Linked DNA regions of Homo sapiens. The protein of the gene in region 1 purifies or fractionates together with the protein of each later gene. This does not show direct contact. Each region holds a gene or a part of one and is shown on either strand. Other genes may lie near its edges.

The links. The genes of interacting proteins can lie anywhere in the genome.
Region 2: the proteins of MED12L (region 1) and CDK19 purify together in Homo sapiens (affinity purification with mass spectrometry; 5 studies listed by BioGRID and IntAct, with this or other methods). This does not show direct contact.

Annotation. Positions count from the first base shown.
Region 1 is NC_000003.12:151,375,650-151,382,688, forward strand, and holds part of MED12L (mediator of RNA polymerase II transcription subunit 12-like protein), read left to right. Parts: intron 1-376; coding exon 377-565; intron 566-1,150; coding exon 1,151-1,225; intron 1,226-1,341; coding exon 1,342-1,529; intron 1,530-2,362; coding exon 2,363-2,524; intron 2,525-4,463; coding exon 4,464-4,575; intron 4,576-7,006; coding exon 7,007-7,039. UniProt on the Homo sapiens protein: May be a component of the Mediator complex, a coactivator involved in the regulated transcription of nearly all RNA polymerase II-dependent genes.
Region 2 is NC_000006.12:110,805,468-110,812,506, reverse strand, and holds part of CDK19 (cyclin-dependent kinase 19), read left to right. Parts: intron 1-7,039.

The sequences.
Region 1 (7,039 bases):
TGTATTCCATAAAAATTATGAAGAACGTATATCTGATAGAATCATTATATAGCAAGTTAGAAAAAACTGACACAAAATAGTGCCTAGAGCAAGACCTTACTTTCCAGTTAAAAACATACTAATATTCTCTTTATTGTCTTTTCTTTTTTCCCATTAAAAAATGTTTTTAAGCAAGTTCTACTTTGTATTTTTTAGAAGCCAAAATGCTAAAAATTTTGTTTTTTAAAATTTTTCTACCTACTTTTTAATGTAATTTTTTAAATTGGAAAATTCCTATCAGTTTTCTATTCAATTATGCACTGTGGATTTAGTACATATTGCATATATATATACCGAAAGCCAGTGCCTGTCAATCTAATTGCCATATTATTTTTAGGAATGGGTAGGAGAGCATTGCTTAAAAGAACCTGAAAGATTATGTACAGACAAAGAACTTATATTGGACCCTGTGCTTTCAAATATGCAAGCACAGAAATTACTGCAGCTTATCTGTTATCCTCATGGCATTAAAGAATGTACCGAGGGGGACAATCTGCAAAGACAGCACATTAAGCGTATTCTTCAGGTCAGTCGTATACAGATTGTGTTTCTGTCATTTGATAAATTCTTCGTAATAATAAAAAGAGTTACTTCCTCTCTTTTTTTGTCCTTGCTAATTTGTGATTTCAATTCTGATTTTTATTCCCACACATTTTCTGTGGAATTGACATACTTTATTTTTGGGTGGATGTACATGCTGCAAATTGTATATGATCATCAAACAAATATTGATATTTTAAATCAGTATTGTATTTACATGAGAAATATGCTTCAGAGAGGGGCTATGTTAAATATATTATTAAAGAAATATTGAAATCATTTTGGATTGGGATTGGTTAAATAGATTTTGAAAGGAGAAATGCTTATTTAGTTTCAGTGCATAGCTGAGTCAGGCACAGTATTAACTAATTAATAATTAATGTTTCTGTTTATTGGTTTGTATCGCTACTGAATATATATGCAGCAAGATTGGGAACCTTTTGACTCATATAAATTATTTCATTGTGTATGATTATTCTGCTCTTTCTTGAGAGAAGGAGTACTGTAAGAAATTACTGTATTTTAACACATTTGATACCCATAATGTTTTAATTCTTTCCATTTTTCCCAGAATCTTGAGCAGTGGACACTGAGGCAATCCTGGTTAGAACTCCAGCTAATGATCAAACAGTGCTTGAAGGACCCTGTGAGTTTATATTGAAAGCTTATCTCTGTATGAAATTTTATAAAAAGCAAAAACACGTTGATGTTTGAGGATAAAGGAATACACATATGTGCCAGTATTCTTATATCTAACTCTAGGGCTCTGGTTCTGTGGCCGAAATGAACAACTTACTGGACAATATTGCAAAGGCAACAATAGAGGTATTCCAGCAGTCTGCAGACCTAAATAATTCTTCTAATTCTGGCATGAGCCTCTTCAACCCAAACAGTATTGGAAGTGCTGATACAAGTAGCACGAGACAGAATGGAATAAAGACATTCCTAAGGTATTTTTGTCTGTTGTTTTATTGAACTGTCATGAATTTTTCACAAGTAACGGTAAATTTTGTGTAGCACAGTGATTTTTCTTTAAGTCATAGGAATGTGAAGAACATAGTTACTTGTAAGCAGGGATTATTATTAATAAGTTAATGAGTAAAGCTGGGGTGAATGATAGCTTCGGAATATTTGATTGAGTAGGCTTAAACACCTTGAAACTGCAGGTGAACTCAGGTTTGGTTCATGCTTTCAGTGTCCCTTAGTCTACTGTGTTACGTAGTATTCATTATATGGGAAACGCTTTTTCCACCATTTTTATTAATTAATTATTTTGCACAAATATATCCTGGTAATTTTTGTGCAGAATTAGAACCAGTAGGCATATAAAGTCTTAAAGTAATTATTTAATCATGAAAGGCTGATTTGTATTTCATCATTTTGGTATAAAGTATAACTAGCGAATTTTAAACCTTAAAAATTAGCTATTAGTATGCTTACATATAATATTTCATATTGTAACTGTGACAGAAAAGTATATTGTTTGTTGGACAAAGTGATTGTTTTTAATTAGAGAGAGGGGGTCATCGGAAAACATTAAAGTCAGTTTAGTTACAATATCCTTCCAGAACTGCATGTTTTATTGCTTTCTGTAGGCTTAGGTGGAAAGCTCATGCAAATGTCTAGTGTTCGGAAAAAGGAAAGATAATACAGAAATAAAAGGGAAATTTTAGAACAGTCTGTGTGTCTCATACATCAAAGTTTCGCTTTGGAGTTTCTGTTATAACTGTGAGAGCAGGGGAAAGGATGCTTTCTCCGGTGTAACACCTGTTTCTGATTTTAGTTCCTCCGAACGCAGGGGTGTATGGTTGGTGGCCCCCCTCATCGCCAGGTTGCCAACTTCTGTGCAAGGAAGAGTGCTGAAAGCCGCTGGGGAAGAGCTGGAGAAGGGACAGCACTTGGGTTCTTCTTCCAAAAAGGAAAGGGACAGACAGAAACAGAAAAGGTGTGGCTGGAAGATGGGCGTCTGTGTGAGAGTTTAAAGAATAATTGAGAAAGTCTCACTTCCTGTAAACCTGTGTGGTCACTGTACCCACAGTCCACTGAAATTTAGTTTTTAAATGGAACTGGGAATATTCTATTAGGCAAGGCTGTCTTATTCCTAAAAAATTTCAGGTTATAATCCTTAATACATTAGTTCTCAATTCTGCCTTTATATCCAAATCACTGCTGAACTGTTAAAAACAGTGATTTCCGAGACCCGCTTTAGACCAACTGAATCAGATCTGGATAGCTACCTGATCCCTGTATTTTATTTTTAATTATTTCTATTTTTTTATTATTTAGATATTTATGTTTAAAATAAATATAATGTATAATTCTGGCATGTTGGTGTCTGAACTAGTTGCTCATATTTTTAACATTTAGGGCTCCTGTTCTAGACTAGACATTAAGACTCCTCGGCCACCACAACTAATGTTTTCTTAATTTATTTTATGCCCAAGAAAAGGTTTCAAGTAATTATATTTGAAAACCGTGTTACTGAGAAAGAAAGAAACCTCACCCTAATGTGAAAATGCCAAGAAACCTAGGAGTAAAGGAAAAAAATTGATAATTTCTTCCATTAAAAAAATATTTTAAGCACATAGATTTCTTGTCCACTAATGAATAATACTATAGTAGCCACCATTTATTGACTGCTTACAGAATGGCAACTCCTCTCTAAAACTCATTATGTACATGAGCTTTTAAAATTCTTATAGCAATCATGTGGTAGGTACTCTCATTATCTTCTTTATATCATGTTGAAACAGACACTTAAAGGTTACATGAGTTGCTCCAGGACACACAGTGAAGGACATAAAGCCTGGGTTTAAATCCAGGAGGTCTGGCTTCTGAGCTTGTGCTCTTAACTACAGTACATTTTGGTAGAGACCCAGCATTGTATGTACTGTATTTGTTTTACATCTGGTTGTTTTACCATGTTGGCCAGGATTAATTAACCAACAAGGAAGCATAATTCTAATTTTCAAATCATATTTGCTGATAGGTGAGTGTATGTGCATTGCCTAACTTCCCATAGGCAGGACAGATGGTATTGAAGAGACTTGAAAGATCGCTCTTCCCACATCAGGGGCTCTTTATTCTGCCCATGGAGAATAATGCTGATTGAAATATTTTGGCCTAGGTCTCATTTTAAGAAATTTGTCTTTCCAACATGGCGCTTTGTTTGTCAATATGATTTGTTGATTATTCTCTAATTGAAGACATTTTGTTAAAATGCCAATTTAAAACAGAATTTTTAACCAAATGCCTTGACACCTCTTTACCAGTGGATGCTGCGGGCTATGTTGGAGCCTGTGGGCTGTGTTGGAGCTGCACACTAGGGGTCGCCAGCAAGTACACTGTTTTTGGAGTCCTCAGCCCTGGCTGATGAATTAGCTCTACTAACACCCTGCTTTTTGGTCTTGGGAAATGTGCTGAAAAACAAAATCAAACCCCAAAACAAGCTCAACAGACATATATATAGGCCTGTTTTCCCAGACTCTAAAACAAGAGTTTTATATGAGAACTTTAAAAATTTTTAATTTTATCCTGTGTATAAATTGATATTCTTTCTGATGTACATTTTTAAATTCTGCATATTGATGTAGAAGATGAATTCACTGTCTTCTACCCTCACTGCCCGGCATGCTCACATGCAGTATGGTTTGATGCTAGTTTGAGAATGGCTTCGAGGGCAATTAGAGCATACGAAGTGATTTAGAAGCATTACAGTGGCTTTTAATTTTATAAGTAGAGGTATGATTTAAATTTTCAAGCAGTCTTTGGCTATTTACCACCTCTCTTATTTATCTAATAGTGAGGCAAAGAAATGAATGTTGCCAGAGGAAGTAATGCATTATTTCTAACTAGATCTGTTGTTATTATTACTTCCTTTGTAGTATGTCTCTTTTGAGTCAACAACCCTTCCTCTCACTGGTACTTACCTGCCTTAAGGGACAAGATGAACAAAGGGAAGGCCTCCTAACATCTCTCCAGAATCAAGTTAACCAGGTAAAGTATAGTATAATATTAAGACAGGCAAATATCTTTCTAACGGCATTCATTTATTTGCCTTTCAAATACTGAGATTAAATTAATAAGGGCCAGGTGTGGTGGCTCATGCCTGTAATCCCAGCACTTTGGGAGGCGGAGGCTGGTGGATCACCTGAGGCCAGGAGTTCGAGACCAGCCTGGCCAACATGGTGAAACCCCGTCTGTACTAAAAATACAAAAATTAGCCGGGCATGATGGTGTGCGCCTATGATCCCAGCTACTCGGGAGGCCAAGGCAGGAGAATTGCTTGAACCTGGGAGGCAGAGGCTGCAGTGAGCTGAGATCGCGCCATTGCACACCAGCCTGGGAAACAATAGTGAAACTCTGTCTCAAAAAAAAAAAAAAAAAACAACTAGTAAGGTTACAAAATGTTTTGAGTAGACGCTGAGAAACAATCCATGCCTTATTCTTCTACCTGGCATTGTAGACACCACAAGATTAACAACTTTATATTAATGAGATATATACAATAAATGTGTACTGCCTATAAAAGTAAAATTTTATATATTGCATATAACTTTGAACTATCTGCCCGTCTCCTAACTCTGCCTCATAGGAGAGGACCTGGAGCAATCTATGCTGCAGTAGGCATGGCAGTGAGTCCAGCTCCTCAAGCTTGGATGCCACATTATCAGGCACGCTTTCAGCTTGAAATCTGTAGGTTCAGAAACTCAGTTGTATTGATGCCAACCAAGTACACAAGAAATAAATCAGAAGGCATGTTGGTTTATTTAGAAATAATTTGGACATTGCCTTTTCACCAAACACAGTTCTCCTGGTCACTGTTTGAGGCTCTTGCATCTATGTACTATAAGGAAACTGAGCATTCACAACAGAAATTGGAGAGCATGGAATTAAGCAAAGTGGATAGATTGGTCTTATGAGGTGTTTTATCCTGATACACAGCCTAATTGACCCCTTCTTGTGGCACTGTGTTTCTATGACACCATGTCTTTCCCTCGAATGGTACTAGATGGACATGGACAAGGACACTTAATCTTATTTGATCCTCTTGTCATTTCTCACCTTTTGGGTAGGAGAGATCTAGATATAGCAATCATAGTGAACCTTTTTAAATGGAAGTCACATATTACCTCAGTATACCTAGTATAAAAAATTCGGGCTGATAAGGCCAGACATGATTTGACACTGGCTCTCTCTCCTACCTTGTCTCCTACCAGTCATGGCCCTCTTTCCTCCATGGTTGTTGCACTGGCCATGTTACTGTTCTTGAACTTGCTGAGCAAATTCTCATTTCAGTGCCTGTGCATCTTTTCTTCCCTTTAGGTGGAAAGATTCCCTTCCAGAGATTAGCATGGCCTGCTCCCTTCATTCAGTTCTCTGTTAAGATGTTACCTCCTTCGGGAGGCCTTTGATCACCTCTAAAAATAGGACCACAGCCATTCTGTATGCCATTGCCATGCCTCAAACCACTTGTTACACTTAGTTTTATTTGTCCCACTACTATTATTTGAGCTCCATGAGAGCTTGTTGTTTAGTTAACTACCTTGCCCCCTTAAGCCAGCCTTAGGGAGGGGTTCATTTCTTCTGATGAGATTTGGGAAGTGCTTTCCTCTCACCTTGCAGGGTACTTACAGGTCATCTGTTGGGATGGAGTACTTCTGCATGTGACTCATTTGAACTCTTTTAAGATGACTCTCATTAATGACCATATTTCAGAGCATGATAGGGTTTTTGTTAGTGGTTTTTTGTTTTTGTTTTGAATTGCACTTTTTTTTTGCTCATCTCATCTGATTTTAGGGTGTTGCCCACTTGTGGCTCCCTTTCCTAAGCAAATTTTTCCTTTTCCAGCATTAGTGTGAGTCAGTGAGGAAGTGAAGAAGCAGCCCACTTTATAAACTGATAAAGCCACTTGGCTGATGTCTGCAATGCCATATTTTTCAAAGTACCGTGCGTTCTCTTTATCAAGGAAGACACATACATAAGATAGCAGACCTTCTCTTCTATAAAACATCAAAATAATACATTTGCTAGGGTTCAGCAAGTCCCTAGAAATATAACAGGACTGAGGCAAAATGTAATTCTCTCTCTCCAGTGTTTTTCTTCGTAAGATCAATGAGGTAATGTATTTTAAAAGTTTTTATTAATGCTTAATTTGATGGCCCTCTCAAGCATTTTCCCAGACTTAATCATAGGCTAGCTATATAATTATATAAGATTTTCTTCCTCCACCTAGAACGGCAAATGCACAAATAAATAGCCAGATTTCTTTCTGCATGGAGGAAGAAGAAAGCTAAAATTTTATTTAGCTTTGTTTGTTAATTTGTTAAAGATAAGAAGTGGTTTTTTGCTATCAGTATAAAGCTCAATTTATCTTTAAATGAGAGAAAAATTAAACTTTAATGGGGAGTTTTTTTCCGGATCTTAGATTTTAAGTAACTGGAGAGAAGAACGATACCAA
Region 2 (7,039 bases), on another chromosome or scaffold:
TATTAATTATATCACAAATTTATAAGAGGCTGGAAATGCAAGATTTACATCTGAGTTTTTCACCTTTAATTAAAAATATTCTCTGGGTCGGGTGCGGTGGCTCACGCCTGTAATCCCAGCACTTTGGGAGGCCGAGGCGGGTGGATCACGAGGTCAGGAGATCGAGACCATCCTGGTGAACATGGTGAAACCCCGTCTCTATTAAAAATACAAAAGGAATTAGCCGGGCATGGTGGCGGGTACTTGTAGTCCCAGCTGCTCGGGAGGCTGAGGCAGGACAATGGCGTGAACCCGGGAGGTGGAGCTTGCAGTGAGCCGAGATCCCGCCACTGCACTCCAGCCAGGGCGACAGAGCGAGACTCTGTCTCAAAAAAAAAAAAAAGTTATTTGTTCACCTTTTTGTTTTGCAGGAAGAGAGGCTTTTGACCCAACTCTCCTTTTTATTTAATATTTATACTTTTGAATATTTTTTGTAGAGACCGGGTCTTGCTGTGTTGCCAGAGCTAGTCTTGAACTCCTGGGCTCAAGTGATCTTCCTGTCTCAGCCTCCCAAAATGCTGGGATTACAAGTGTGAGCCATCATGCTGGACCTCCAACTCTCTTTTACTTTAAAAAAAAAAAAAAATCCGGTTTAAAAGTTGTTCTTTTTTTGTTTTTTCGTTTTACAGACAGGGTCTTGCTGTGTTGTTCAGGTTGGTCTTGAACTCCTGGCTTCCCAAAGTGCTGGCATTACAGGCTCATGCCACCACACCCAGCCAAATGTTACTCTTGAAGAGAAACAAGTTCAGAATATTTCTGAACTTTTTAATACAAGCAAGAATTCATAAAATAAATTTTCTTCATTATTAAGAAGTCGCACATGACAATTTATGGTTACAAATTTCAAGACTGCATTTTTCCAGTTAGAAACATTTAAAAATTTGATCGATAAAGGAATATTGTTAAAAAGTTCTTTTGTTGGCCGGGCGCCGTGGCTCACACCTTTAATCCCAGCACTTTGGGAAGCCGAGGCAGGTGGATCACCTGAGACCAGGAGACCAGCCTGGCCAACAAGACGAAACCCCGTCTCTTCTAAAAATACAAAAATTAGCCGAGCGTGGTGCCTTGCATGGCTGACACAGCTTACAGAGTTTGTTTTGTCAGGGTTTCAAATGAGTGGTTGATGACTACATAACTTAATGTATGTCATGAAATTCTTCACAATGAGTACATGTAGATGCATATAGCTAATAGGTACAATAGTATTTGCCTGTGTTTGATGGGTTTTTCACAATCGGTTTGTAGTTAGATTATTGTATTTGCATTTTTGTTGGACACTTACAGAAGATTAAAGATTTGTCAGTATCATCAGAGGATTAGAACTTTCCAAAGTTTTAGATCATCTAGTTCAATTTCCTCTTTTTACAAATGAGAAACCTAGAGCTTTGAGAGGTTAACTGTCATGCTCATAGTGTCACAGCAGAGATAGCCTGTAATCCACATCTAACTCAAGAGTTCTTGCATTTTCCTTCCTAATACCATGGGAGGAAAAACAAAAAAAGGCCATCTTACCTCCAGTCTTGATAACTTACTGTATAAACCTTTTTGCATGCCAAAAGTGCATTTATACCAAAAAAAAATATGGAAAAGGGAAATTATCACATATACAGGACATTTACAAAGTGGGAGTGCAGGACTGTAGATTCTACTACATGTAGCTGCTGCTTTTCTTTTTTCTTTTCTTTTTTTTTTTTGAGATGGAGTTTGCTCTTGTTGCCCAGGCTGGAGTGCAATTGTGCGATCTCAGCTCACTGCAACCTCCGCCTCTTGGGTTCCAGCGATTGTCCTGCCTCAGCCTCCTGAGTAGCTGGGATTACAGGCATGCACCACCACGCCTGGCTGATTTTGTATTTTTAATAGAGATGGGGTTTCTCCATGTTGGTTAGGCTGGTCTCGAACTCCCAACCTCAGGTGATCCACCTGCCTCGGCCTCCCAAAGTGCTGGGATTATAGGCGTGAGCCACCTTACCTGGCCATGCTGCTGCTTTTCATCTGTTTTTTTCTTCATCCTCACTGTCAACACTTTTGGCCATTATTTCTGATTTGGATAGTAGCTGGTTGGTCTCTCACTATAGTCCAAGATCCAAATTGCTGCTAGTGTCATTTTCCTATAAAATCAATCATGTCATATCTCTTTTTGGAAAGCTATACGTTTGCTATGGCTTATACTATCAGATCCAATCTCATCTCTTTCTCTTCTCTCCTTGCATGATTCATACTTGAGACTTAGATCCAATTTTAATTCCTTAGTTTGTCATGTAAAGACATTTACATTCAGACCCTGAAGTCTGTAGTCTTTATACCTGCCACCATTTCTTTTTTCCAGTTGCATTTAAGCTATATACTTCTGTAGCATTGAACTCGTATTTTCTGGTACTTAAGTCCTTTCATGTCTCATTTTCTTTGTTCTACATTCACTTTAGAATGGTGTTGCTGTGCCATTCTTCCCTCCCCCTTTTCCCTTATCCTTACAAACCTGTAAAACTCATACTTCAATACCCAACTCAAATAGCTTTCCTCCTTGAAGCCTTCTCTTAATCACTCGGTGTACTCCTCAGCTGTGTTTCTACCCCTTTGTTCTTACATATGTAAAGTCACTGTAAGTGATACTAATATGCCTCATAAATTACTAGCTGCAAAAGGATCATCATTCTGTCCAGTGCCTTGTACAGAGTTGGTCACATAATACACAAAATTATATTCAATTAAAAATGCCTTTAATTGGTAAAGATGCTCCACTGATTTTAAAAGCAGACCAAATTCCTTTAAAAACGCAAGTTTATTTACTTTTCTTAAAAAACGAAGTTTTTAGTAATTGCTTTGAAAGCCTGAAATACAGTAATGTTATATGAAATAGGTGGTTAGATGTAAATACTTCTAATGTATTTTTTCTAAGAAATGTACTGCTTTTCCAAACAGTTGATAAATTTCTTTTTTCATTTTTTTCACTTGAGACTGTCTCACTCTATCACCAAGGCTGGAGTGCTGTCGTGCAGTCGTAGCTGACTGTAGCCTTGAACTCCTGGGCTCAAGTGATCCTCCTGCCTCAGGCTCTTGCGTAGCTAGGACCACAGATGCACGTGCTGGCTAATTTTTGTTGTTGTTTTGTAGAGACGAGGTCTCACTGTGTTCACTGTGTTGCCCAGGCTGGTCTCGAACTCCTGGGCTCCAGTGATCCTTCTGCTTCAGCCTCCCAAAGTGCTGGGATTACAGACATGAGTCACTGTGCCTGGCCCATTTCTTTTTTTTTTTTTTGAGATGGAGTCTCGCTGTCTCCCAGGCTGGAGTGCAGTGGCGCAGTCTCGGCTCACTGCAAGCTGCGCCTCCTGGGTTCATGCCATTCTCCTGCCTCAGCCTCCCGAGTAGCTGGGACTACAGGCGCCCACCACCATGCCCGGCTAATTTTTTTTTTTTTTTGTATTTTTAGTAGAGATGGGGTTTCCCCGTGTTAGCCAGGATGGTCTAAATCTCCTGACCTCATGATCCACTTGCCTCGGCCTCCCAAAGTGCCGGGATTACAAGTGTGAGCCACCACGCCTGGCCCCATTTCTTTGAACAGATATTAGATATTGCTAAGGAAAATAGGCATATTTTTGAGAAATAAATATTTTCTCTTAGGCCAGCTCTTTTAGAATTGCTAGACTAGTAATCTGTCTTCTGTGCTTTTACTAGCTATTTTATAGAGATGCTTAGAAAATACCAGTATTTAAATACATTTTAGGACAAATTTTGGTTTTATGGGTTTATGGTAAAAAATTAAGTATCTTTAACACTTAGTAAATGAAGTAGACATCTGTTTATGTTTAACTGGTTTGTCATTTTTGTAATGCAAGCCTTCAAAAACTTTTTGAGGCCTAAGGGAAATTAATGTGTTCTTTTTCAATGAAATTTGATAATCTAGAGCAGTGATCAGCAAACTTTTTCTGGCAGATACTAAATATTTTAGGCCTTTTGGGCTTTACTGTCTCTGGTGCAATTACTCAACTCTATTGTAGTGCCAAAGCATCGACAGATAATACGTAAACCAGTATGGATAAGGATGGCTGTGTTCCAGTAGACCTTTATTTATACAAATAAGCAGTTGGCTGAATTTAGTCTGCAGGCTATAGTTTGTTGACTCCTGGTGTAGAGCAGTGATGTCCAATAGAACTTTCTGCAGTGATCTGAAAATGTTTAGCATCTGTGCTGTCCAATATGCTAGCCACAAGCCACACGCCACACATAGGTATCGATTACTGGAATGTAGTTAGTGTGATTAGAAACTAATTAGTAGCTATCACATTGGACTGTGTAGGTTTAGAGTCTTTGGATGAGTGGCTTAGCAACAAATAATTCTCTGATCCATCAAGTGACCTTTCAATAAAAATGTTTAAATCAGGGTGTGGATAAATAGGAAAACTGTTATGTCTTTTTTCAAGTTACAGGAGAAATATTAAGGCTGAAATAGCTTGATAAAGCAAACCAATACTTGAAGAACTATCAATTTATGAATGGAATCAAGGATATTTAACTACTTTTTCAAAAAAGTATTTTATGGCCGGATGAGGTGGGAGGATTGCTTGAGCCCAGGAGTTTGAGGCTATAGTGAGCTATGATGATGCCATTGCACTTCAGCATGGGCAGCAGAACGAGACTCTCTTAAAAAAAAAAAAAGGTATTATAAAAAAAAGTTTGTAAATAGTATATGTGCGTAAAAATATACAATGTGGCTGGGCGCGGTGGCTTATGCCTATAATCCCAGCTCTTTGGGGAGGCCGAGGTGGGCAGATCACTTGAGGCAAGGAGATCAAGGCCAGCCTTGCCAACAGCGAAAACTCCGTCTCTACTAAAAATACAAAAAATTAGCCGGGCGTGGTAGTACACACCTGTAATCCCAGCTACTCGGGAGGCTAAGGCACAATAATTGCTTGAACCTGGGAGGTGGAAGCTGCAGTGAGCTAATATTGCACCACTGCACTCCAGCCTGGGTGACAGAGTGAGACTCTGTTTCAATAAAACAAAAATAACAAAAAACCACCAGTGTAACGTAAGTCATCCCTTTCCCAGCCATTCTTTCCCTTTTTTAGGGGCAGTCATTCTTGGTTGTCCTTTAAGAGGATTTTCTTTTGGGGTATGTGCATGTGTGTTAACTTAAAGATGTCATTAAATATGACATGCTAGTGTGCTGCACACTTTTCTATTTTTAGATCATGGCTCACTGCAGCTTTGGCTGCCTGGGCTCAAGCAAGTCTGTCTCTTGGGCTCAAGCGATTGTTTCACCTCAGCCTCCTGAGTAACTGGGACTACAGATGTGGGCCATGCCCAGCTTTTTTTTTTTTTTTTAAATTATTTGTAGAGATGAGGTCTTGCTATGTCTCTCAGTCTGGTCTTGAACTCCTGGCCTCAAGTAATCCTCCTACCTTGACCTCCCAAAGTGCTGGGGTTACAGGCATAAGCCATCATGCTTGGCCCTATTTTTATTTTTATTTTTATTTATTTAATTTATTTATTGAGACGGAGTCTTTCTCTGTCACCCAGGCTGGAGTGCAGTGGGAAGATCTTGGCTCACTGCAACCACCACCTCCCAGGTTCAAGCAATTTTCCTGCCTCAGCCTCCTGAGTAGCGGGGACCACAGGCATATACCACTATACCTGGCTAATTTTTTGTATTTTTAGTAGAGACAGTGTTCACCATGTTGGCCAGGCTGGTCTCGAACTCCTGACCTCAAGTGATCCATCTGCCTCAGCCTCCCAAAGTGCTGGGATTACAGGCGTGAGCCACAGTGCTTGGCCCATATTTTAAATCTTAAACATTGCTTAAACATTATGACATATCTATATACAGAGATGCCTTGTTTCTCTTAATAGTTTTGTTGTATCTCATTGTATTGACTTACATCATTGGCTGTCTCCAGTCTTGCTAGTACTAACACTGAAGTGAATATCCTAGTAAGCACAGCATTTTGTACCTATTAATGTGTCTGTAAGTTAAAGTCCTAGAAGCTGTTTACCTTTGGAAGTAATGGCTTGGAATGGTTTACTAATATGGTGATGTATAAGATAGAAATATCTGAAGACTGGAGATGGGGGGGTTGGCTAAGAATAAGGAAGTGAAATGTTAAGACAATAATAATTTTTTTTTTTTTTTGAGATGGAGTTTCGCTCTTCTTGCCCAGGCTGTTGTGTGATGGCACGATCTTGGCTCACCGCAACCTCTGCCTCCCGGGTTTAAGCGATTCTCCTGCCTCAGCCTCCCAAGTAGCTGGGATTACAGGAATGCGCCACCATGCCTAGCTAATTTTGTATTTTTTAGTAGAAACGGGGTTTCATCATGTTGGCCGGGCTGGTCTCAAACTCTTGACCTCAGGTGATCTGCCCACCTCGGCCTCCCAAAGTGCTGGGATTACAAGCGTCAGCCACTGCACCCAGCTGACAGTGATAATTAACACATAAAAATGAGCTATAAATCATTTGTTAAAGGAAGTACAAGTTACTTACTTTTTTTTTTTTTTTTTGAGAAGTGTTATCCAGGCTGGGGTGCAGTGGCACGATCTTGGCTCACTGTACCTCTGCCTCCTGGGCTTAAGCTACTTTCTCATGGCTACTGTTTTAGGAGCATGGAAAAGGCATGTCTCTGAGTTTTACATAGGAAGAGTAGATCCATGGAAAGGTTTTTAATGCAATCTATGTCAGTGTTGATGAATTAAGTATTTTTATTTTTTAAAGTATATAAAATATAGTGTCCTACATTTTTGAACTTAATATGCTAGACAAATAAGTTCATATGTGGTGTTATAAATTGTGTACAGTTGACTGTTGAACAGCAGGAGTTTGAACTGTGTGGGTCCACTTACACGCAGATTTGTGAAACCTGCGTATATGAGGGCCAACTTTTTGTATAGGTGGGTTCTCCAGGGCCAACTGCAGGACCTGAGTATATGTGGGTTTTGGTATATGCAGGGGTCCCAGAACCAACCCTTTAGGTATACTGAGGGACATCTATTTGTTTTGAAAAATTATT